Homo sapiens: one gene and its partners. The protein of the gene in region 5 interacts with the protein of the main gene of each other region in a pairwise test. Each region holds a gene or a part of one and is shown on either strand. Other genes may lie near its edges. The genes, in order: TCP11L1, KRTAP6-2, MAGED1, C1orf94, TBX6, KRTAP11-1 and METTL27.

The links.
Region 1: the proteins of TBX6 (region 5) and TCP11L1 interact in binary tests that used the Homo sapiens proteins (3 or more experiments, as listed by UniProt).
Region 2: the proteins of TBX6 (region 5) and KRTAP6-2 interact in binary tests that used the Homo sapiens proteins (3 or more experiments, as listed by UniProt).
Region 3: the proteins of TBX6 (region 5) and MAGED1 interact in binary tests that used the Homo sapiens proteins (3 or more experiments, as listed by UniProt).
Region 4: the proteins of TBX6 (region 5) and C1orf94 interact in binary tests that used the Homo sapiens proteins (3 or more experiments, as listed by UniProt).
Region 6: the proteins of TBX6 (region 5) and KRTAP11-1 interact in binary tests that used the Homo sapiens proteins (3 or more experiments, as listed by UniProt).
Region 7: the proteins of TBX6 (region 5) and METTL27 interact in binary tests that used the Homo sapiens proteins (3 or more experiments, as listed by UniProt).

What each region holds. Positions count from the first base shown.
Region 1 is NC_000011.10:33,042,572-33,046,071, forward strand, and holds part of TCP11L1 (T-complex protein 11-like protein 1), read left to right. Parts: intron 1-1,178; 5' UTR 1,179-1,202; coding exon 1,203-1,365; intron 1,366-3,500.
Region 2 is NC_000021.9:30,598,090-30,600,113, reverse strand, and holds KRTAP6-2 (keratin-associated protein 6-2), read left to right. Parts: upstream 1-1,211; 5' UTR 1,212-1,239; coding exon 1,240-1,428; 3' UTR 1,429-1,524; downstream 1,525-2,024. UniProt on the Homo sapiens protein: In the hair cortex, hair keratin intermediate filaments are embedded in an interfilamentous matrix, consisting of hair keratin-associated proteins (KRTAP), which are essential for the formation of a rigid and resistant hair shaft through their extensive disulfide bond cross-linking with abundant cysteine residues of hair keratins.
Region 3 is NC_000023.11:51,896,623-51,899,738, forward strand, and holds part of MAGED1 (melanoma-associated antigen D1), read left to right. Parts: coding exon 1-455; intron 456-585; coding exon 586-649; intron 650-924; coding exon 925-1,004; intron 1,005-1,172; coding exon 1,173-1,264; intron 1,265-1,491; coding exon 1,492-1,571; intron 1,572-1,662; coding exon 1,663-1,705; intron 1,706-1,958; coding exon 1,959-2,021; intron 2,022-3,116. UniProt on the Homo sapiens protein: Involved in the apoptotic response after nerve growth factor (NGF) binding in neuronal cells. Inhibits cell cycle progression, and facilitates NGFR-mediated apoptosis. May act as a regulator of the function of DLX family members.
Region 4 is NC_000001.11:34,200,907-34,204,406, forward strand, and holds part of C1orf94 (uncharacterized protein C1orf94), read left to right. Parts: coding exon 1-126; intron 127-1,177; coding exon 1,178-1,353; intron 1,354-3,500.
Region 5 is NC_000016.10:30,089,125-30,093,352, reverse strand, and holds the start of TBX6 (T-box transcription factor TBX6), read left to right. Parts: upstream 1-1,428; 5' UTR 1,429-1,480; intron 1,481-1,818; exon of another isoform or gene 1,819-2,111; 5' UTR 2,112-2,159; coding exon 2,160-2,277; intron 2,278-2,360; coding exon 2,361-2,595; intron 2,596-4,142; coding exon 4,143-4,228. Other genes in the region: YPEL3 (protein yippee-like 3), read left to right, coding at 554-643. UniProt on the Homo sapiens protein: T-box transcription factor that plays an essential role in the determination of the fate of axial stem cells: neural vs mesodermal. Acts in part by down-regulating, a specific enhancer (N1) of SOX2, to inhibit neural development.
Region 6 is NC_000021.9:30,880,144-30,882,974, reverse strand, and holds KRTAP11-1 (keratin-associated protein 11-1), read left to right. Parts: upstream 1-1,394; 5' UTR 1,395-1,450; coding exon 1,451-1,942; 3' UTR 1,943-2,331; downstream 2,332-2,831. UniProt on the Homo sapiens protein: In the hair cortex, hair keratin intermediate filaments are embedded in an interfilamentous matrix, consisting of hair keratin-associated proteins (KRTAP), which are essential for the formation of a rigid and resistant hair shaft through their extensive disulfide bond cross-linking with abundant cysteine residues of hair keratins.
Region 7 is NC_000007.14:73,836,804-73,839,516, reverse strand, and holds part of METTL27 (methyltransferase-like protein 27), read left to right. Parts: intron 1-479; exon of another isoform or gene 480-657; intron 658-2,713.

The DNA of each region.
Region 1 (3,500 bases), on a different chromosome or scaffold from region 5:
TTCCTAATTACTGGCAAGAAGGTAATAAAAATATTTGCCCCACACATTCCTCTTAAACATTTCATAAGATTCTGTTTTCTGTAGGGCGCAGTGGCTCATGGCTGTAATCCCAGTACTTTGGGAGACCGAGGCAGGTGGATCACCTGAGGTCAGGAGTTCGAGACCAGCCTGACCAACATGGTGAAACCCCGTCTCTACTAAAAATACAAAATTAGGCCAGGCGCAGTGGCTCACGCCTGTAATCCCAGCACTTTGGGAGGCCAGGGCAGGTGGATCATGAGGTCAGGAGTTCGAAACCAGCCTGGCCAACATGGTGAAGCCCCATCTCTCCTAAAAATACAAAAATCAGCCAGGCATGGTGGTGGGCGCCTATAATCCCAGCTACTCAGAAGGCTGAGGCAGGAGAATCACTTGAAACCGGAAGGTGGAAGTTGCAGTAAACTGAGATCGCACCACTGCATTCCAGCCTGGATGAAAGAGCGAAACTCTGTCTCAAAACAAAACAAAACAAAAATTAGCTGGGCGTGGTGGCACCCACCTGTAATTTCAGCTACTTGGGAGGCTGAGGCAGGAGAATTGCTGAAACCTAGCAGGCGGAGGATGCAGTTAGCTGAGATTGCCCCATTGCACTCCAGCCTGGGCAACAAGAGCAAAACTCCATCTGGAAAAAAAAAAAATTCTAGTTTCTGTCATCTCTGGGTATCTTATTCACATGATAATATCAAGGAATCAACCCTTTAGCCCAGTGTATTCACTTGTAAGCCCAATTAAAAGCATTATTTCCAAGGAGTTTACCTATCTGCTCTTAGGAATGAAAGTAAAGAATTTAAGATTGAATCACTGATTAAAATTGTAGCAGCAGGTAGTTTAGAGTGTGTCTTCTAATAGTTTAAGGCCCTGTATTCTTGAAACATGCTACTTAGGAGTAGGACAAAAATATTCCAACTAACTACTACGTGAGATCCAGAAATCTGATAAATTACAAATGTCATTTTACAAGTATCTGTTTAGTCATTGAAGTAGAATATAGCTGGATAAGATCTTAGCAAGCTCATTTATTCTACAAACGAGAAAACTGAAACCCAAAGAGGTTAAATGATTTGCCCTGAGTCACATTGCTAGTTGGTGACAGAGCTAGAATACTTTTAGTTCTTTTTTTTTGTTTTTTTCTTTCCTAGGAAAGTGAATAAACTTAATTGAGAATGTCTGAAAACCTTGACAAGTCCAATGTAAATGAAGCAGGAAAATCAAAATCCAATGATTCTGAGGAAGGCCTCGAAGATGCTGTGGAAGGTGCTGATGAAGCCTTACAAAAAGCAATAAAGTCAGACTCCTCCAGCCCCCAAAGAGTGCAGAGACCTCACTGTAAGCAAATTTGACTTTGGTTAGATGCAATATTGTCATTGTTTTCAGGTGACGGTTTTATGAGGCCTCCTTGTGCATGTGGCCGTGAGCTAGGTTCTAATAATATAACATTGCCAATGTAGCATTTAGGAATAATAGCAGTTCCTCAGCTGGCAGCCTAGCTACTTGTGGATTTTCAATTGCATGGGAAATTAACAATTTAGAATAATGTCCAGAACGTTCCTGTCTTTCTCCAGCCTCAGTGACACTCCAGTCTCTGAAGTGCTCTGAGAAATAGGAGGGTGGAGTATAAATTGCAGCTTGTATTGAAAGAGTGTTTGAAAAGTCTGAGGCTAATTCCAGCCAGGACTGTGCTTGTGCAGGTTAAAAAAAAATGTGAGTAAGTTCACCACACCCTAATTCTCTGCCTGGGGGCTTAGTTCCCACAAGCTTGAGGGGATTCAGTTTGCTAAATGTGTGTGGTGAAGTCATTTCAGATCCCTGGCAAGGAGCAAGCCTCTTAAATGAAAGGGTGGCAATATCTTCAGGCATTCCCAGTGGTTGCCTCAACTCACGTCTTTTATGAAGAGTACCTTAAGCATTTTGAAGTGAGTCCAAAAATGCAAGTTTTTAAGAGGGAATGTCATAGTCTAAGAATGTCGGTATTGATGTTATCCCTTTAAATTGTAGATGATCAGTAGTTGTACGTATTTGGAAAAAGTACAGACATTTTTGGGTTTTGGGGTGTGTTTCTTCTAAAATGATCAAAGCCCTTCCCGGGCAATTTATTAGTCAACATACTATTCTTCTAGCAAACATTAATGGACCCTATTTTATTCTGATTTATTATCACATAGATTTTAATAAATCAACTATTAGGTCAAATTGTGTCCAAGGAAACATGTTGTTGCTAGCACAGTCTATCATGCATTTGTCAGGCCTGACTCCAATATGTGTAGTTAGAAAGCTTCTGTTTTCCTGTCTTTAAAATGAGGAAAATACAATATTTCTTGGGGTAGCAGTAAAGATTAAATGAATTCCTATAAGGCACTTAGAACAGTGCTTCACAGGTAATAAATGCTTAATAAACATTAGTTGTTGTTACTACTATTGCTACTAACATTATGTCATCTATTGCATTTAAAGATGCCAGGATTGGCCAGGCATGGTGGCTCATACCTGTAATACCAGCACTTTGGGCGGCTGAGGCAGGAAGATCACTTGAGTCCAGGAGTTCAAGACCAGCCTAGGCAACATAATGAGACCCCATCTCTACAAAAAATAAAAATTAGCCAGGCATGGTGGTGCATGCCTATAGTCCCAGCTACTTGTGGGGCTAAGGCAGGAGGATCACTTGAGCCTGGGAGGTGGAGGCTGCAGTGAGCCGAGATCACGCCACTGCACTCCCGTCTGGGTGACAAAGTAAGACCCTGTCTCAAAAAAAAAAAAAAAAAATTAGCTGAGCATGCACGTGGTTGTAGTCCCAGCTACTTGGGAGGCGGGGACAGGAGGATCACTTGAGCTGGGGAAGTCAAGGCTGCAGTGAGCCGTGATTGTGTCACCGCACTCCAGCCTGGATGACAGAGTGAGACAAGCCTCTCTCAAAAAAATAAAAATAAAAAAAATAAAGAGGCCAGGATTGATTGCTGTAATGTAGATGTATATGGCTAACATGATAGCTTTACAACCTATAGTTTCTGCTAAAGAAGAACTTTTGGTTTAGGTCTTCAGTCACCCTTTATTGGTTGGTTGGTTGTTGGGATGGCCAGACCCAACGTGGAGGTGACGAAGTCCAGTGGAGTCAAAAGAATGAAAAAGACAAGTTTAAGAGTGCATAAAGTGGGTCCGGGGGCCAATGCTAGTATGGAGGCTGCGAAGGCCCCGAGCTCTGGAAGCCTGCACTATTCATTGGTGATGAAACAAAGAAGCAGGTGGTGAGGATGTGGGGGTTGAAAGAAAGCAGTGTATCAAGCACATGATCTACAGCTGTGACGGTTTAGCATTTTCTTTGCAGCATATGGAACATGTTCTGCTACTTGAGATAATGGGAAACATGTTCTAGTTTAAGATACAATAGATCTATGAGCCTAGGAGTGCTAGAAGCAAGGAGCCAGCAAGTCTAGACACATTCCAGAGGCCACGCCCTGAGCCCTGGA
Region 2 (2,024 bases), on a different chromosome or scaffold from region 5:
AAAGATTTATTGGCATCATGACTCCCTGAGATGGCACAAGACAAGAGTTACATCTCTTCCCAAATGTATAACCTCAATCTACATATGAGGAAACCTTAGACAGATTCAATTGGGGAATATTCCACAAAATATCTGGCTCTCTAAAATTGTAAGGTCATAAAAGCCAAGAAAAGACGAATGAACCATGAGCAATTGGAGGTGACTAAGAAGTATAAAAACCAAATGCAATGTGAATTGGATCCAAGAACAGAAAAAAAGAACATTAAAATAAATATGTGAATAGTGCTACAATGAACCATGGTCCTAGAACTTAAAATAAAATAAGTTAATAATAACAGAAAAATGGTAAAATAAAGTCTGCAGTTTAGTTAAGAATACTGTACACAGTTAATTTCTTTGGTGTGATAAGTGGATTATGGTTATGAAAGATATTAATATTAGGGATGTTGAATGATGGATATATGGAAATTTTCTATACTATTTTGACAACTATCTCTATGCCTGAGATTATTTTAAGATAAGAAGTTAAAAGAGAATATAAAACTATTGTTCCATTTCATTGACTTGGTCACTTATTAATTCTTTTATAAATCAAGAAAATAACTTACATTTTCTTGTTCTTCCGTAGAGGTTGAACATAAAGGAAAATTAGACTCACTGGTATAAGTAGAAAAATACAACAAATTTTTCTCAGATCTGGTTTTCTAGAATTTTTAATTAGTTGAATTATTATCAACATCATGGCTTTAGTATAGAAAAGACACTAAATCCCTGAAAAAAGTATTATTTGGATAAAGAGAGCAGAAATACTAAAAGGGCAAAGTTATTGTTTGCTGAATGTTGTGCAAAAGAGTACAATTAATTGGGGCCTAGAGCAAATAAGAGTGTAACTAACAAAAGTCTTTCTTGATGTAAAGGATGGCTATAGAAAGTCTAGTTTGAGGCAGGATTATATGAGTGTGAGTGTGTGAGGTCTCCTTTCATCAGAGCCCTCAATCAGATAAGGGGAGCCCAAATTGCAAGGCCAAACAAAACAAGCCTCCTTAATACCTCTGCAGCATTATCTTACAATTGAGAAAAAACAAACTAATTATATTAGTCAAAAAATTAGCCAGTGGTATGCTACCTCTGCTGGATCATTCCCATCCTGAGGCATATAAAAGGACTTCTACAGGAAGTATCCATACTGAAGTCACCTACACTCCTTCCTACCCAAGGACAACCTCCACAACCATCACGATGTGCGGCAGCTACTACGGAAACTACTACGGCGACCATGGCTATGGGTGCTGTGGATACGAAGGCCTAGGCTATGGCTATGGAAGCCTGCGCTGTGGCTATAGCTCCTGCTGTGGCTATGGTCATGGCTACGGCTCCCGCTTCTTCTGTGGCTGTGGCTATGGATGCGGCTCTGGCTACTACTATTGAGGACACCGTGGGAGACTCATCCTCTATCCTGTGACATCGGGATTCACCAATTCTGAACCCCGTATGCTCTGAGCTCGGGGCTGGATGAAGATTATCTTATATTAAAAGTTTCTGATGTGATTTATCTGAAGACTGACCCTCCCACCCCCAGTACCCTCTGGATCTAGTATTTTCAACTTCCTTTTCTGCATTTAATGCATGAAAATTAAAATAATGTAAAATTCATCCTATGAACTCCTGTGGTCTCTCATCAAGATGATGCTGTTATAGATCTTGCTTTTTGATTTTCATGCAGGAACTTATTTTCTGTTTTCCTAATACACTTTTTCAATCTGGAATTACCATCCTGATTTTCTTTTCATTAGTATCCAGTATTTATCTTTTTAGCTTTCTTCCCAATTTATGTTAACCTAACAATGTCTCAACGTAACCCATGTTATCACTGCTTCAATAGAATAGAAAACCGAGCATGAACAGAGCAGAAAACCGTGCATCATTTATGGGTTGATTATTTGCGTATGAAAATCATTTACTGTCAAACTTGTTCTATGTAGTTCATATCACAACTCTACATAAATAATTTATAATCTAAATAA
Region 3 (3,116 bases), on a different chromosome or scaffold from region 5:
CTCCAGCTAGGCAGACCCCACCAGCCTGGCAGAACCCAGTCGCTTGGCAGAACCCAGTGATTTGGCCAAACCCAGTAATCTGGCAGAACCCAGTGATCTGGCCAAACCCCATTGTCTGGCCCGGCCCTGTTGTCTGGCCGAATCCACTGGCCTGGCAGAATCCACCTGGATGGCAGACTCCACCTGGATGGCAGACCCCACCGGGCTGGCAGGGTCCTCCAGACTGGCAAGGTCCTCCTGACTGGCCGCTACCACCCGACTGGCCACTGCCACCTGATTGGCCACTTCCCACTGACTGGCCACTACCACCTGACTGGATCCCCGCTGATTGGCCAATTCCACCTGACTGGCAGAACCTGCGCCCCTCGCCTAACCTGCGCCCTTCTCCCAACTCGCGTGCCTCACAGAACCCAGGTGCTGCACAGCCCCGAGATGTGGCCCTTCTTCAGGAAAGAGTAAGAGCTGTAACTCCCCAGTCACTTTTCCCCTCTCTTGCTCTTTTCTTTGTCATCCTCTCATCTGTAATTCAACCAAGTTTTTTTGTAAATATTTTATAAGTTTAATGATTTCCTTTTTCCCTCCCAGGCAAATAAGTTGGTCAAGTACTTGATGCTTAAGGACTACACAAAGGTGCCCATCAAGCGCTCAGGTATGCATCCAGTGTCCCCTCCCCAAGCTCTGCCCTTCCCTTCACTCCATGCTCTGTCAGCATTCTTCTGCTTGTAGCTCTGCCCTTCCCTTCACTCCATGCTCTGTCGGCATTCTTCTGCTTGTATGACCCTTCCCCTTCTATCCCCTCCTTTCCATGGTTGGCTCTTTCCACCCTTGAGGACCTTGACTGTGCTACCCCCAGCAGGGCTGGCAAAGGGACTGCTGCTCTGTGGCCCCCGCTCGGCTCAGATGGCTCCCTCCTCTCTCCTACAGAAATGCTGAGAGATATCATCCGTGAATACACTGATGTTTATCCAGAAATCATTGAACGTGCATGCTTTGTCCTAGAGAAGGTGAGAAGGCAGCCCTGGGGTACAGGAATAATGGGGAAAGTCTTGATTTCAAAGATTCATGGGGTTCCTACTGGGAGTTTAGGGCAAGTCTCAGGGAGATGAGTGTCTGCCTATGGGTAGCTTATGCTAGATGTTGTAATTTCATAGTCTGTTTTCTTGCCCCTGTAGAAATTTGGGATTCAACTGAAAGAAATTGACAAAGAAGAACACCTGTATATTCTCATCAGTACCCCCGAGTCCCTGGCTGGCATACTGGGAACGTAAGATGGGAAAGAAGGTGGAACATGGCCTTTCTCAGTGGTGCTTTTTTTCTAGGAGTTTCACGTAGATCAGGGTCCAGGGTTCAGGGTCACATAGCAGGTCATGGGCAGAGCTGGGGTATAATTCTCCCCTAGCTGAGGAATATTGGGGAGGCTAGATGGGCAAGCTGGTTGGGGTCTCTCATGCAAATGGCTACTGAAAATATATTCTTTCTATATTCCCTTAGGACCAAAGACACACCCAAGCTCGGTCTCCTCTTGGTGATTCTGGGTGTCATCTTCATGAATGGCAACCGTGCCAGTGAGGGTGAGTGGCTGGACCTGCAGCTGGGGGTTGGCCACAGCCTGATTTCCATGCTTATTTTCCGTCCCTTGTCTCCCCTTGCCTCCCATTGCAGCTGTCCTCTGGGAGGCACTACGCAAGATGGGACTGCGTCCTGGGTATGATTGGGCTCTCTCATCTCTTGCCTGTTTGTGCCATCCTTTGGCAACAGTGGATGGTCCCAGGATTGCATTAACCTGGGGGTCTGGAGGGTTTGGTTTGGGGATGTTCAGAGCCCAAAGATGTGACCTGGGTGGATGGGGAAACAGTTCTGAACTCTCTGCCTCTTTTCTCATCTCTGACCTCTGTTCTGGAAAGCTCTTTGGGCATGGTAATAGCCTCTGATTGTGGGTTTCCTTTTTTTACCTTCAGGGTGAGACATCCCCTCCTTGGAGATCTAAGGAAACTTCTCACCTATGAGTTTGTAAAGCAGAAGTAAGTGATGCCTAAGGGGCTTTTCCTGCTTCTTATGATTCTGCCTGTGTGCTGGTCAGCTTTAGAAAGCCCTTCCTGGCTGGATACAATGGCTCATGCCTGTAATCCCAGTACTTTGGGAGGCTCAGGTGGGCAGATCGCTTGAGCCCAGGAGTTCAAGACCAGCCTGGGCAACATAACGAAACCCCATCTCTACAAAAAAATACAAAAATTAGCCAGGCGTGGTGACATGCACCTGTAGTCCCAGCTACTTGGGAGGCTGAGGTAGGGGAGAATCATCTGAGCCCAGGAAGTTGAGGCTGCAGTGAGCTGTGATCATGCCACTGCACTCCAACCTGGGCAACAGAGTGAGACCCTGTCTCAAAAAAAATAAAAGAAAGCCCTTCTCAAGCTCGTTTCTTACACTATACTTGTGCATATGTGTTTCTGTGCATACAGAAACACTTATGTCCTCAGGAGTATTTATTGCATATACTCCTCATGGTTAAATTCTTTATTTTTTATTTTTTTATTTTTTGAGACGGAGTTTCGCTCTTGTTGCCCAGGCTGGAGTGCAATGGCGTGATCTCGGCTCACCGCAACCTCTGCCTCCTGGGTTCAAGCTATTCTCCTGCCTCAGCCTCTTGAGTAGCTGGGATTACAGGCATGTGCCACCACGCCCACCTAATTTTGTCTTCTTAGTAGAGACGGTGTTTCTCCATGTTAGGCTGGTCTCAAACTCCCGACTTCAGGTGATCTGCCTGCCTTGGCCTCCAGAAGTGCTGAGATTACAGGCGTGAGCGACCGTACCGGGCGAATTCTTTTGTTTGTTTTTTTCGAGACTGAGTCTCACTCTGTTGCCCATGCTGGAGTGCAGTGGTGCAATCTTGGCTCGCTTGAACTTCCACCTCCCAGGTTCAAGCAATTCTTGTGCCTCAGCCTCCCGAGTAACTGGAACTTCAGGTGCGTGCCACCGTGCCCGGCTGTTTTTGTATTTTTAGTAGAGATGGGGCTTCACCACGTTGGCCAGGCTGGTCTCAAACTCCTGACCTGAAGCAATCCACCCACCTCTGCCTCCCAAAGTGCTGGGATTACAGGTGTGAGCCACCACACCCG
Region 4 (3,500 bases), on a different chromosome or scaffold from region 5:
CGCCCAAGAAACCTACATGTCCAGCCGAGAAGAACTTGCTCTATGAGTTCCTTGGGGCCACCAAGAACCCAAGCGGGCAGCCGAGACTTCGAAACAAAGTGGAAGTGGATGGGCCGGAGCTGAAATGTGAGCTGACCTACCCAGGGAGGGATTGGAGGGGAGGGGGTTGCAGTGACCCTCACAGGCTTCAGGGTGGCTCTGTCACCAAGTGGCTGTCTTATCTACTGCCTTTCTAGAGGTGTCAGTTTTTAAACCCATAAAATGGGGGCAATGACTTTCTCCCCATATCCCTTGTTGGGAATACAGTTGCTAGAGAAGTGTAGTTGGCTTTCAAGGGTCACGTCAGCATTATTAATGGTCACTTCTGAATATAGCCCTGACCCAGCATGTATTATATCCTCTCAAATTGCCCAAGCCAAAACAAAAGATCCTTGCTTTAGATTATTTCTATATTGAGATTATGTTCCCGCTTTCTTTTCCTACAAGGGTTCTAGTCAAACCTCTTTTCCCAAAAGGATGCCAATAAGGGGAAACTGAGGACCCATTTCTGATTTTATAAGCCCCCACAACATCTTGTAGAAAGGAAGAATCCAGGATTCTGATCTTGAAACAACTCAACCTAACTTCATTTGTTTAGACCAATTTTGAGTCACTGCATGCTGAATTATTTAATGTTTTAAAATATAATTTTTAAAATTCCCATATAGATACAACAACCTGTGAAAGTTTCTTAGTGTTGCCAAATATATGTCCTTAGGGAGGGGCTGCTTTAATCATTTGATAAGGATGAATTCCAATGGCATAGCAATGGTTCACATAAAGTTGGATTTTTCCAAAGCAGTTGAAAGAATTTCATTTTGTAAGTAGGTGAAATATAGGCCTAGCAATCTGGCTTATTGTATTCCCTTGCTAAATTGCCTTCTTTACTAGTGAATGATGGAAAGAAAAGCTCCAAGCCAGACCTTCTGGGATTTTCATCCCTTCCAAACTGGCAAGGTGTGAACTAATGATGTTTACCTATAGTTGGAAATGTACTAGAACTTTGAAGAACCCTCTTGGAGCTTAAAGGACCTGACCTGTGAGACTGTGAATCCCTAAGGAAGTTGCGATGCTGAAGGTGTCCTGGCCTCTCCCTGCCTCCATCACTGACCCGCTTTGCCTCTCCTGTGACTTGCAGTTAACGCACCTGTGACGGTTGCTGACAAGAACAACCCGAAGTACACAGGGAATGTTTTCACTCCACACTTTCCTACAGCCATGACCTCAGCAACCCTGAACCAGCCACTCTGGCTCAACCTGAACTATCCACCTCCACCAGTGTTCACGAATCACTCTACCTTCTTGCAGTATCAGGTCAGTGAGCTGGCCTGGCTCTCCTGTGGACATCCACGGGGGTTTTGGCCACAGAGAAGGAGTGGCTGGCAGGGGGTCTATTTCACAGAGTCTTTAGACTCCTCTGAATCCCTTCCCTACATGCAAGAGGCTTCGCTGGGGCTATGGAAGGGCGCTGTCAACTTGTCAGCTTGTTGGTTATTTTTTTCATTGTAGTCACATCAGATCTACCCCTTGGTTCATGTGCATGCGTGCGCACACCTCCACACACACACACATATGTATATTTAGTCCTAACTTTCCATTGTCCGAATTCCAGTTCACACTGTGCTCTTTATTGCAGAGTCTCTTTGCTAGTTGTGGCTGGTTAAGTGCTTGGGCTCCCAGGAGAAGATGATGTCACAGTCCTTGTTTCCCACCTCTCTCCTGTGACTTCCTTTGAAGTTGGATGACATATATCCCAGATTATTTGGGACAGTCCCAATTTAGGTCTTCTGTTCCAGAATAATATGAATGGCATCCCTTTTCACTCTCAAGTGTCCTGGTTTGGACAACAAATTACAGTCAGCCCTCTGTATCCATGGGTTCCAAATCCACAGATTCAACCAATCTTGGATGGAAACTACTTGAAGAAGAAAACAACAACAACAACAACAAAATACAACAACAAAAAATAATGCGAGTAAAAGATAATACAGTATAATAACTATTTACATAGTACATTATTAGGCGTTGTTAGTAATCTAGAGATTAAAGGATACAGGAGCATGCGCATAAGCTACATGCAAATACTATGCCATTTTATATTAGGGACTTGAGCATCCTCATATGCCATTTTATATCAGGCACTTGAACATCTTTATATGTCATTGTATATCAGGGACTAGATCATCCTCATATGCCATTTTATTTTATTTGAGACAGAGTCTCACTCTATCGCCCAGGCTGGAGTGCAGTGGCATGACCTTGGCTCACTGCAACCTCTGCATCCCAGGTTGAAGCGATTCTCCTACCTCAGCCTCCCAAGTAGCTGGGATTACTGGTATGTGCGCTAATTTTTGTATTTTTAGTAGAGACTGGGTTTCACCATGTTGGCCAGGCTGGTCTTGAACTCCCCGCCTCATGTGATCCACCTGCTTCCACCTCCCAAAGAGCTGGGAGTACAGGGGTGAGCCACCGCACCCGGCCCTCAAATGCCATTTTATATCAGAGACTTGAGCATCTTTGTATGTCATTTTATATCAGGGACTTGAGCATCCTCAGATTTTGGTATCCACAGGGCAGGGGAGGGAGGGTGGTCTTGGAACCAATCCTCTGAGGATACCGTGGAATGAGTGTATATGGCCACCTTACTTAAACTACACCAAGCAGTCTTAGCTTTGTACCAACCAAGGTGGCTTGGCACACATTCTTGTTCTTGGGATCATAGCTAAAGGAGAAAATCAATGGCCAGACACAAAGGGACAGTGAAGCACCTGTAGCAGGGCTGGAAATTCTACTCACAGAACTTATTTATGCAGGGAAAATGTAGTTTCTTTATTTTGTCGATTTAACTTAATATCCCTTAAGAGCTGCCGCCCACTGGGTAGAAGGAGGGAAAAATTAAATAAATGTCCACTCTGGTTTAAGCCTTAGCCCAATCCAATAACTTAAATAGTCCCTTTAGGTAGAACTCAATTTTTTCAGGAAAGATTCTCCATGCCTAAGATTTCTGTCTTCTGTTCCTCGCACTGGCTTCTCTCCAGAATTGTATGTCATTGTATGGGGAAGGGCAGGAACTCAAATTTGTGCACTCAGGACCTTGGCAATTTGCTGCCCCAGCCTGGCCCAGCACAGCCTGAAGTGAGAAAGCAAAGAAGGAAATACTTCCAACTCGGCTTGTCCTGTTGCTATGTCCCTTCCCCGCTCTCCACTCCTAGGAACCCTATGTCATTCTTTCCCTTTCAACACAGCACAAACCTTATGTCCTATTGGGAAAGGGGATTGGCTCTTCTGCATATAAAGACTCTTCAAGCTGGTCCACCAGGCTTAGTTTCTGAATCTTAAAGGAACTTAGCAAAGTCTCTCTCTGTTTTGTTTTCAAGCTTTTTGTTTGTGTGTGTGTTTGCTAAAGAGAACAAGTACCCGTCCCCTCCCGAGGGAGGGAAAGCTCACACCCCATTGTGGAG
Region 5 (4,228 bases):
AAGCGGAGGTTGCAGTGAGCCGATATCGCGCCGTTGCACTTCCAGCCTGGGCGACAGAGCAAGACTCCCTCTCAAAACCAAACAAACAAAAAAACCTCAAGTGCCTGCAAGGCCAAGCAGATACTGTAGATGTGTAAAGGGTAGCATAGATTGGCAGGGTTGGGAGTTGGGGGCAGGCTGGGCAAACTGGAGTGAGCAAGGCCTACTTATATTTTAATACTTTAAAGTTATTTTTATTAAACTGTCTGCTGTCCAAACATAATACATGTTGTAGGCCAAAATGGCCATGAAGCTACCAGTTTGCAAACCCTGAACTGTGAAATCTTTTAGCCACTTCCCTATCTTCTCTGTTGGAGCCATCATTAGTACTTAAAAAAGTACCTTTGAGTCAGGGAGTTCTATTCTACTCTGTGTTTGTGAGAAATACGGCCCTGCCCCTCTGGGCCACAGTTTCCTCATATGTAAAATGGGGCCACTCATGTCCACTTCCCAACCCCAGTGCCTTGTGGTGAGACTGTTGCTCCGGGGATGACGGTCCCGCCCCTCCTTTCAGGAACAGGCCTTTGAGAGCAGCCAGAAGTACAAAGAGGGGAAGTACATCATTGAACTCAACCACATGATCAAAGACAACGGCTGGGACTGACCCCCGCTCCCCCGACGCATGTGGCTCCAGCCCGGCCTGGCCGCCAGGGAGCGCCACTGGCTTCCCGCCACCCGAAGGGAGCTCTGGACCCTCAGAGCCCCTGCAGAGGACGGATCTAGCTCCTGTATATATATTTTATTGCATGCACTGTGACCTTGGGGGGAGAACAGAAGGGGGACGACGCCCCCGCACCTCCTGCGATCTGGCTGGCTTGGATCTCGTTTTTAACCCGTTCCTGCCCCACCTGCCCTATAGTTATGGCCTGTGTTCTGCTCTCCTGGTCCCAGTGCACCGTCTGCTCTGTGAACTCCTCCCACCAGGCCCTTCTTACCCCACGCGTGTCTGTCCCCCTCGTTCTGTAGCGTTTGTACATAATAAAACAATGGAGTGGAGACAGCTCAGGCTCGCGTGTAATCCGGGAAGGGGGAGCTCAAGCGGAGATTTCCGCCCCTATAGACCTGTGCGGTTCTGAGCCCCGGCGGGGCATGGGGTAGGCACAGCCGTCCAAGCTGGGTCTCCGGGAACCGGGACGGTTTCACTGCTGGCGGAGGTCCTGAGCCCACTCTGGCTGCCTACGCCGTGACCTCGGCTGATCTGCGTCTGCTCATCTGCAGCGTTTGGCCGCCGCCTAGGGGCAGCGTCCCAGGGAGGCAACCGCGCCGCCGGCCTCGCAGCCCCCTCGCGGTCGGACTGCAACTCCCAGCGGCCCCCGCGTGGTCCGTCCGGCTCCTTCGGGCGCGCCTCAGCGCTGAGCCTGCCGGGAAGTGTAGTTCCGAGGGTTCCCCAGCGCGGGACCTTCGGGAAACCCTGGCGCGAGGCGTCAGAAGCTGTCGGACTGTGAGCGCCTTCGAACTTTGGAGGCTTGGCTCGGGATGGAGGTTTTTTTAGCATGGGGACCAGGGAGGACTACGGTGCTCGGGACTGGGCTGCGGCCTCCTCGCGGCCCCGAGTGCCCTGTGAAATCAGCTCAGGCCGCGTCCCTCTAGCCTGCACTTTCCCTCTGTTCACGCTGCTTCCCTCCAGGGCCCGGCCTCCAAGTGAAGGGGGGCGGAGGGCGGTCACCTGCCAGAAGGTCTGGGGCGCCAAGGTGTGTCCCGGGACTCTTGGCTCCGTCCAGGTTCCAGGCCCCGCCCCCCAGCTTATCCCTAGCCGGGGCTCCCCACCGTGGGAACGGGGACCAGCTGGCCGGAAGCGCCAAACTGCGTCCCTGTCCGAGCCCTGGGGATCAATCAAGCCGAGGAGTTAATTATGTAATGAGGGGGCAGGGGGTCGAGGCTAATGAAGCCTCCCGGGGTGGGGAGGGAGGGGAGGAGGGGACCGTACCCAGGTATCCGACCCCCTCTCGGACCCCTTCGAGGCCCCAGGGGTCTCCACCCCAGCCCAACTCCAGGGCCCCAAAGAGGGGAGGGGCTGTGATCCTGGATCTGGAAGGGGCTGAGCTGTGAGCTATAAAGGGGGCATCTCGCAGCACCGGGGGCCCTAAGCAGCGAGACCTGAGGCCAGACGGAACTACAACATGTACCATCCACGAGAATTGTACCCGTCCCTGGGGGCCGGCTACCGCCTGGGGCCCGCCCAACCTGGGGCCGACTCCAGCTTCCCACCCGCCCTAGCGGAGGGCTACCGCTACCCCGGTGAGCGTTGGGACCAGCTCCTGGGTAGGAGAATAGGGGGGCTGTGGCCCTCGGCTGGCTCCTCATTCTTCCCCGGCTTCCAGAACTGGACACCCCTAAACTGGATTGCTTCCTCTCCGGGATGGAGGCTGCTCCCCGCACCCTGGCCGCGCACCCACCTCTGCCCCTTCTGCCCCCTGCCATGGGCACTGAGCCGGCCCCATCAGCTCCAGAGGCCCTCCATTCCCTCCCGGGGGTCAGCCTGAGCCTGGAGAACCGGGAGCTATGGAAGGAGTTCAGCTCTGTGGGAACAGAAATGATCATCACCAAAGCTGGGAGGTGAGGGGCTGGCCAGGGTCCGTGTTTCTGGTGGGGGTCTCTTGGGAAAGGCAGAGTCCCTGGGGAGGGGGCTAGGACTGGGTGGTTCCCGAGGGGCTAGAGCTCTGCCTAGGCCTAGAATCTGACTATGGCCTGGGGCAAGGGTTACTCTGTGGCAGGAATCAGGAGTCACTCTGTGACAAGGGTTAAGGGCCAGTCTGTGGAGTCTGTGGCTGAGTTTAGGGACCAATCTATGGCAAGGGTCATGGGTCAGTCTGGGGCAGGGTCAGGAAGTCCCTCTGGGTTATAGGTTAGTGTGTGGCTTAGACCAGCATCCAGACAAGGACAGGGGGTCAAGGGCCAGCCCATTGACCAGCATCAGGGAAATCTGGCCAGGATTCGGGATCAGTATGCAACTCGAATAGGAGTCAGTATATGACTAGGTCCAGGGTCACCCTAGAGGCAGGGACACGGTCAGTGTTTGACCTTAGATGAGGTCTTTAGCTGGGGCAGGAACTCAAGCCCTAGCATGGAAAGTCCTCGGCCCTACTGCAGGCAGGGTATATTTTTTCTAAAGCAAATTCATCTAAGAGCTGCAGATTCTGGTGCTGGAGATCAGGGGAGGAGAGGAGGGTGGGGACAGGAAGCTCCTAGCAAGAAAGTTAGTCACCCCTGCTTCTGCAAATAGGCTTTGAGGGGTAGGAGTCATGGCTCTGTTCCTAACCTGCTGTGTGACAGATCACTTAACCCGTCTGTCCTGTTTCCCCAAATGTAAAATGAGACAAGAAAACCTTCCAGCTCTAAGATTCCGCCCTCTGGCTTCTTTTTTTTTTTTTTTTTTTTTTTGAGATGGAGTCTCGCTCTGTTGCCCAGGCTAGAGTGTAGTGGCACGATCTCGTCAGCTCACCGCAACCTCTGCTTCCTGGATTCAAGCGATTCTCCTGCCTCAGCCTCCCGAGTAGCTGGGACTATAGGCACACACCACCACACCCGGCTAATTTTTGTAGTTTTAGTAGAGACGGTGTTTCACCATATTGGCCAGGCTGGTCTCAAACTTCTGACCTCATGATCCTTCCACCTCGGCTTCCTAAAGTGCTGAGATTACAGGCATGAGCCACTGCGCCTGGCCCTTTTTCATTTTTCAGAGACAGTGTCTTGCCCTGTTGCCCAGGCTGGAGTGCAGTGGTGCAATTGTGGCTCACTGTAGTCTTGACTTCCCAGGCTCAAGTGACCCTCCCGCCTCAGCCTCTGTAGTAACTGGGACTATCAGTGTGCACCACCATGCCTGGCTAATTTTTTAATTTTTTTGTAGAGATGGGGTCTTTCTATGTTGCCCAGGCTGGTCTTGAATTCCTGACTCAAGAGATCCTCCCACCTTGGCCTCCCAAAGTATAGGGATTAGAGGTGTGAGCCACAGCCTCCAGCCTGCCCTCTGGGTTCTAATTCCACCTCCTTTGATGTTTCTCTGACAGCTCTGGGGAGCCCGTTGTTATGTCCCGTTACTGGTGCTGGGCCCACCCCTGGCCAGTGGGTAGCTCCAGGCCTCTCCTGTCCCCTCCCTTGCACAGGCGCATGTTCCCTGCCTGCCGAGTGTCAGTCACTGGCCTGGACCCCGAGGCCCGCTACTTGTTTCTTCTGGATGTGATTCCGGTGG
Region 6 (2,831 bases), on a different chromosome or scaffold from region 5:
TTCTGATGAGTCCTGACATAACGCTGTTTGCTTTGTGGATATTTAAAACATAGCTTACCTGTAGCCCTCAAATACATGGAAATCCATTTTATTCCCTTACGCTCCCTCATGTAAGCTAGTTTAAAAATGAGTCAGATGCTACAGCTGTTTTGGGACAGAAATACCACTGACCACTTGAAGCGATGTTGAAGTTGCTTATTTTGCCAGAGTTGAGGCAGTTTATTCATCTATGTTCAGGTGGACCCAAACGAGCCATCATTCTGGTGTTTAAAATTCATTATATTGTAGTGAGATGAAATAAAATAGAGTGATATCCCTATAGCTTCCCCAAGCATAAAAAGAATAATTAAATATAGCACACTCTTCACACATCTCTTCATTACCAAACATTGATTAAGTGCCTGCTTCCCCCAGCTCTGCCTCCCCCTTATCCCTGATGGAGACAATGACCTTGAAGAGCCTTTAGTTTGTCCATAATTAAAATGCATTCTATCTATATGTGTGAAAATAAATATCTTTTGAACATATTGAACAAATTGGGAGAAAGACACTGTACCCTTTCAAATTAACATTATGATAATTTTAAAAATTAACTAAGCCTTTTCCACTGGCATATTAATGAGACCCAGGAGTCACTATTATCCACTGTTATTAAATTAAACATTTTAGGAATAAAGCTCATCCAATTTACTTAGAAAAGGTCTTGGCTACAAATACAGTTGCACTTAGTTAGCTTCTAATTTGCTTTGTTGGTTGAACATAAAGGGTGGGTCCCACTGCCCTCTAGCCTTCCCACGGGCATCTTGTTTGAGTCAGTTGATTAATTTTGAGAGCCAGCTCAGACTTTGGATACAAGTCTCTGTGCCCTTTGTTCCTGTCAAGTGTTGTCACTGTTGTCTTGAAACATATTCAAGGAGGCACCTTCCCAATGAGGAGCTCCGTTAGGTGTGGTAGAGTGACTGATTAAGTTATGTTTAAAAGATATTAAGTCCAGTGACAAATGAAACAGGGCATGGGCTTGTAATTGGTCCTGGTAGGGAGGGAGAGAGTGTGTGATGGTAGGATGGTGGCATCTTTGGTAGGATGAGTGTCAGGTCAACACTCATCATAAGCAAGATGAATGAGGGACAACGTGTGGGCTGGGATGACCAATAGCTTTGAAGCTGCCAACCAGCCTTCTTAATCAGACTAAGTACAGTACAGAAGACTTGTGATTTAGTTACCAAACTACTAAACTTTCTTTATGAGGGTGAAGGCTTCTTAAGAGACAATTAATGTGTAGATTCACAAGATGTTCTAAGGCAAACTGGTCTGAGCCAAAGAAGCCACGGAGACCAGGGAGAGAGCCCCACCCACCAGCAAGGATATATAAAAGCTCAGGAGTCTGGAGTGACATTCACAACTCAGGAGGTAACTTCAGCAAGCTACCTGCAGCCCTCTGTCTGACATCATGTCCTTCAACTGCTCCACAAGAAATTGCTCTTCCAGGCCCATTGGAGGACGCTGCATTGTTCCAGTGGCCCAAGTTACCACGACTTCCACCACTGATGCTGACTGCCTGGGCGGCATCTGTTTGCCCAGTTCCTTCCAGACTGGCTCTTGGCTCCTGGACCACTGTCAAGAGACCTGCTGTGAGCCCACTGCTTGCCAGCCAACCTGTTACCGGCGAACTTCATGTGTCTCCAACCCTTGCCAGGTGACTTGCTCTCGACAAACTACCTGTATTTCCAACCCCTGCTCAACTACCTACAGCCGGCCGCTCACCTTTGTCTCTAGTGGATGTCAGCCCCTGGGAGGCATCTCCAGTGTCTGCCAACCAGTGGGCGGCATCTCTACTGTCTGCCAACCAGTGGGAGGAGTCTCTACTGTCTGCCAGCCAGCCTGTGGGGTCTCCAGGACGTATCAGCAGTCCTGCGTGTCCAGCTGCCGAAGAACCTGCTAAGTGTGTAGGAGCCAGTGAGCGAATCAAGACTCCACGACCTGCCAGCTGTTTCCAGGATCTTCCAGCATGCTGCTTGTCCCTGAATAGCTCTTCATAGCTGACCCTTCTTGTGACCGCCTGACTGCTGGCTACTATCCATGCACACGCTGTCTTTAGCACTCTAAAATTTTTCTGGCCAGCCCTAAGCTTGTTTTAAGGGTTGCTCACTGGTGCTGTGTATGCCTCTGGATGTGTCCAGAAGCTTTACCATCCACACCCCAGTCTCTGATGCTTTTGACATGTTTTCACCTTGCTGCTGTATCTCCTGGCCTCTGCTTTTGTGTCTCACAAAAACAGAGCTTGTCTCACCATGTATTTCTCAATAAACCTGCATTAGTTGGCATTGCAAATGTATGTCTCAGCAGAATTCTTTTTTAAACATTTCAACTTTTAATTTAGTTTTTGCGGGGTACATGTGCAGGTTTGCTACAGGGGTATACTGTGTGATGCTGAGGTTTGGGGTATGATTGAACCCATCTGTCAGGTATTGAACATAGTACCCAATAGGTAGTTTTCCAACCCTTTTCCTCTTCCTCACTCCCCGCTCTTCCAGTTGCCAGTGTCTATTGTTTTTATCTTTATGTCCACGTGTACCTAATGTTTAGCTCCTACTTATTAGTGAGAACAGGTGGTATTTAGTTTTCTCAACAGAGCTCCTTGTTTGCAAGAGTCTTTGCTGATCAGGGTCTGATTTTTTTTTTCCTGAGCCTAGAATATGGGCTTAATCATTATGCCCTGTGACCAAACCAAGGATTATCTTATATTTTACTTGTTCAGAGAGAGTCTTCAGCTGTGCGGTGAAGTAAGGGCTATGATTTTTCTTTTCTTTTCTTTCTTTCTTTTTCTTTTT
Region 7 (2,713 bases), on a different chromosome or scaffold from region 5:
TGTAAACTTTGCACATTGCGCTGCCCGGGCAGGTGTGTTTCCCGTCTCCTGCTGTGTTCTTGCTCAGCGCTTTGTTCTGCTCTGGGCAGAGGGCTCAGACCCTGCCCTCTGGGCCTTGATCTCCAACCCACTGGGGCCCAGGAAGGGGCCAGAGAGCACAGGGCCTGGTCAGAGGTGGCCCCACGAGAGCCGTGAGTGCTCACTGCTCCCAGAATTTATTTATTTATTTAATTTGAGACAGAGTCTTGCTCTGTCACCAAGGCTGGAGTACAGTGGCACAATCTCAGTTCACTGCAACCTTCACCTCCCAGGTTCAAGAGATTCTCCTGCCTCAGGCTCCCAAGTAGCTGGGATTACAGGAGCCCACCACCACACCCAGCTAATTTTTGTATTTTTAATAGAGATGGGGTTTCATCATGTTGGCCAGGCTGGTCTTGAACTCCTGACCTCAAGTGATCGCCCGCCTTGGCCTCTCACAGTGCTGGGATTATAGGCATGAGCCACTGTGCCTGGTCCTGCTCCATGAATGTAGAGAAGAGAGGCATTTCCAAGACCAGGTGAGGAATCCACATGGGGTGCACCCTAAGGCAGAAAGGAGAGGGGCTGAGCATGAGAACGAGGAGGCGCTGGCTGGCTGCAGGACAGGAAATCATAGAGGTAAAAATGCTTCCTCTCCCTCCCGTCTCTGCCAGGCCCAGCAGAGGCTGTGGCTAAGCCTGGGCAGGTCTGGGCAGGCATCTGGGGAGCCCTGAAGGCTGACAAATGCAGGGACACGGATGGGGTCAGCTGGAAAGGTCGAAGTTGGGCCCAAGAAGACAGGAACTTTCTACTGGGTGAAGCAGCCAGGATCGGACTTCCTAGCCCAACCTGTGCTTGCTAAGCCCTTCAGCCCCATCAGGCTGCCCATGGGTGACAGTCTCCCCTGCTCCGGAGCCTCTCCTCTCACTGCGCTCCCTTCTATCAGCAACACCCTGCTTCTCCTTACCCCCTCCTCCAGGAAACCTTCCCAGACCAGTCACTTGGGCTTCCCCATCTCTCCTTCTCAGTGCACTTGGGGCCACCCTGGGCACGCACACTATAGGTGCCTGGACCTGAGGTGACAAGGCCATTCAGCCGGCACTTACTGTAGGGCACTTCAAACACACATACCAGCCTTCCTGTGATGTTAGATAATCATCCTCTCTGTGCCAGCTGGGAAACTGAGGCCCAGAGAGGTGAAGGGATAGCCCAAGATCCAAAGCCCACATGGGAACTTTCTTCCTGTCCATTCAGACACAGTCACATCCTCCAGCAGAGGCGTGGGTGAGTGGTGAGTGGTGAGGAGGGTGTCTCCTCAATCCAGGAGAATTACGTCAAGAATTCCCCACCAGGCACAGTAGCTCACCCCCATAATCCCAGCACTTTGGGAAACCGAGGCAGGAGGATCCCTTGAGCCCAGGAGTTCAAGAGCAGCCTGGACAACATAGCAAGACCCCATCTCTACAAAAAAAAAATGTTTAATTAGCCAGGCGTGGTGGTGAGCACCTGTGGTCCCAGCTACTCAGGAGGCTGAGGTGGGAGGATTGCTTGAGCTCGTGAGTTGGAGGCTACAGTCAGCTATGATTGCTCTGCTGCACTCCAGCCTAGGAAATAGGGTGAGATCCTATCTCAAGAAAGAAAAAAAAGGGGGGGTGGGCAGGCACAGTGGCTCACGCTTATAATCCCCAGCGGGCAGATCACCTGAGGTCAAAAGTTCGAGACCAGCCTGGCCAACATGGCAAAACCCCATCTCTACAAAAAATACAAAATAGCCGGGCGTGGTGGCACGTGCCTGTAATCCCAGCTGCAAGGGAGGCTGAGACAGGAGAATCACTTGAACCCAGGAGGCGGAGGCTGAAGTGAGCCAAGAGCATGCCATTGCACTCCAGCCTGGGTGACAGAGCAAGACAGGGTCTCAAAAAAAAAGAAAGAAAGAAAAAGGAATTCCCAATGTAAAAGACACAGAAAGACTGCCCTGGGAAGGAAGCTGGAAGAATTTCTTTTTCTTTTTTTTTTTTTTTTTTATTGGAACATTAATTAGGTTTTATTTTCACTTTTTGTTTCCACAGTAACATGTATGGGATTAGGTTACAGTGTTTATTTGTCCCCAATCTTTTATTTATTTATTTATTTATTTATTTATTTATTTATTTTTAATTGATTGACTTTTTATTTTTTTTTATTTTTTTTAAATTTATTTATTTATTTATTTATTTTTTATTGATAATTCTTGGGTGTTTCTCACAGAGGGGGATTTGGCAGGGTCATAGGACAATAGTGGAGGGAAGGTCAGCAGCTAAACAAGTGAACAAAGGTCTCTGGTTTTCCTAGGCAGAGGACCCTGCGGCCTTCCGCAGTGTTTGTGTCCCTGGGTACTTGAGATTAGGGAGTGGTGATGACTCTTAACGAGCATGCTGCCTTCAAGCATCTGTTTAACAAAGCACATCTTGCACTGCCCTTAATCCATTCAACCCTGAGTGGACACAGCACATGTTTCAGAGAGCACAGGGTTGGGGGTAAGGTCATAGATCAACAGGATCCCAAGGCAGAAGAATTTTTCTTAGTACAGAACAAAATGAAAAGTCTCCCATGTCTACTTCTTTCTACACAGACACGGCAACCATCCGATTTCTCAATCTTTTCCCCACCTTTCCTGCCTTTCTATTCCACAAAGCCGCCATTGTCATCCTGGCTC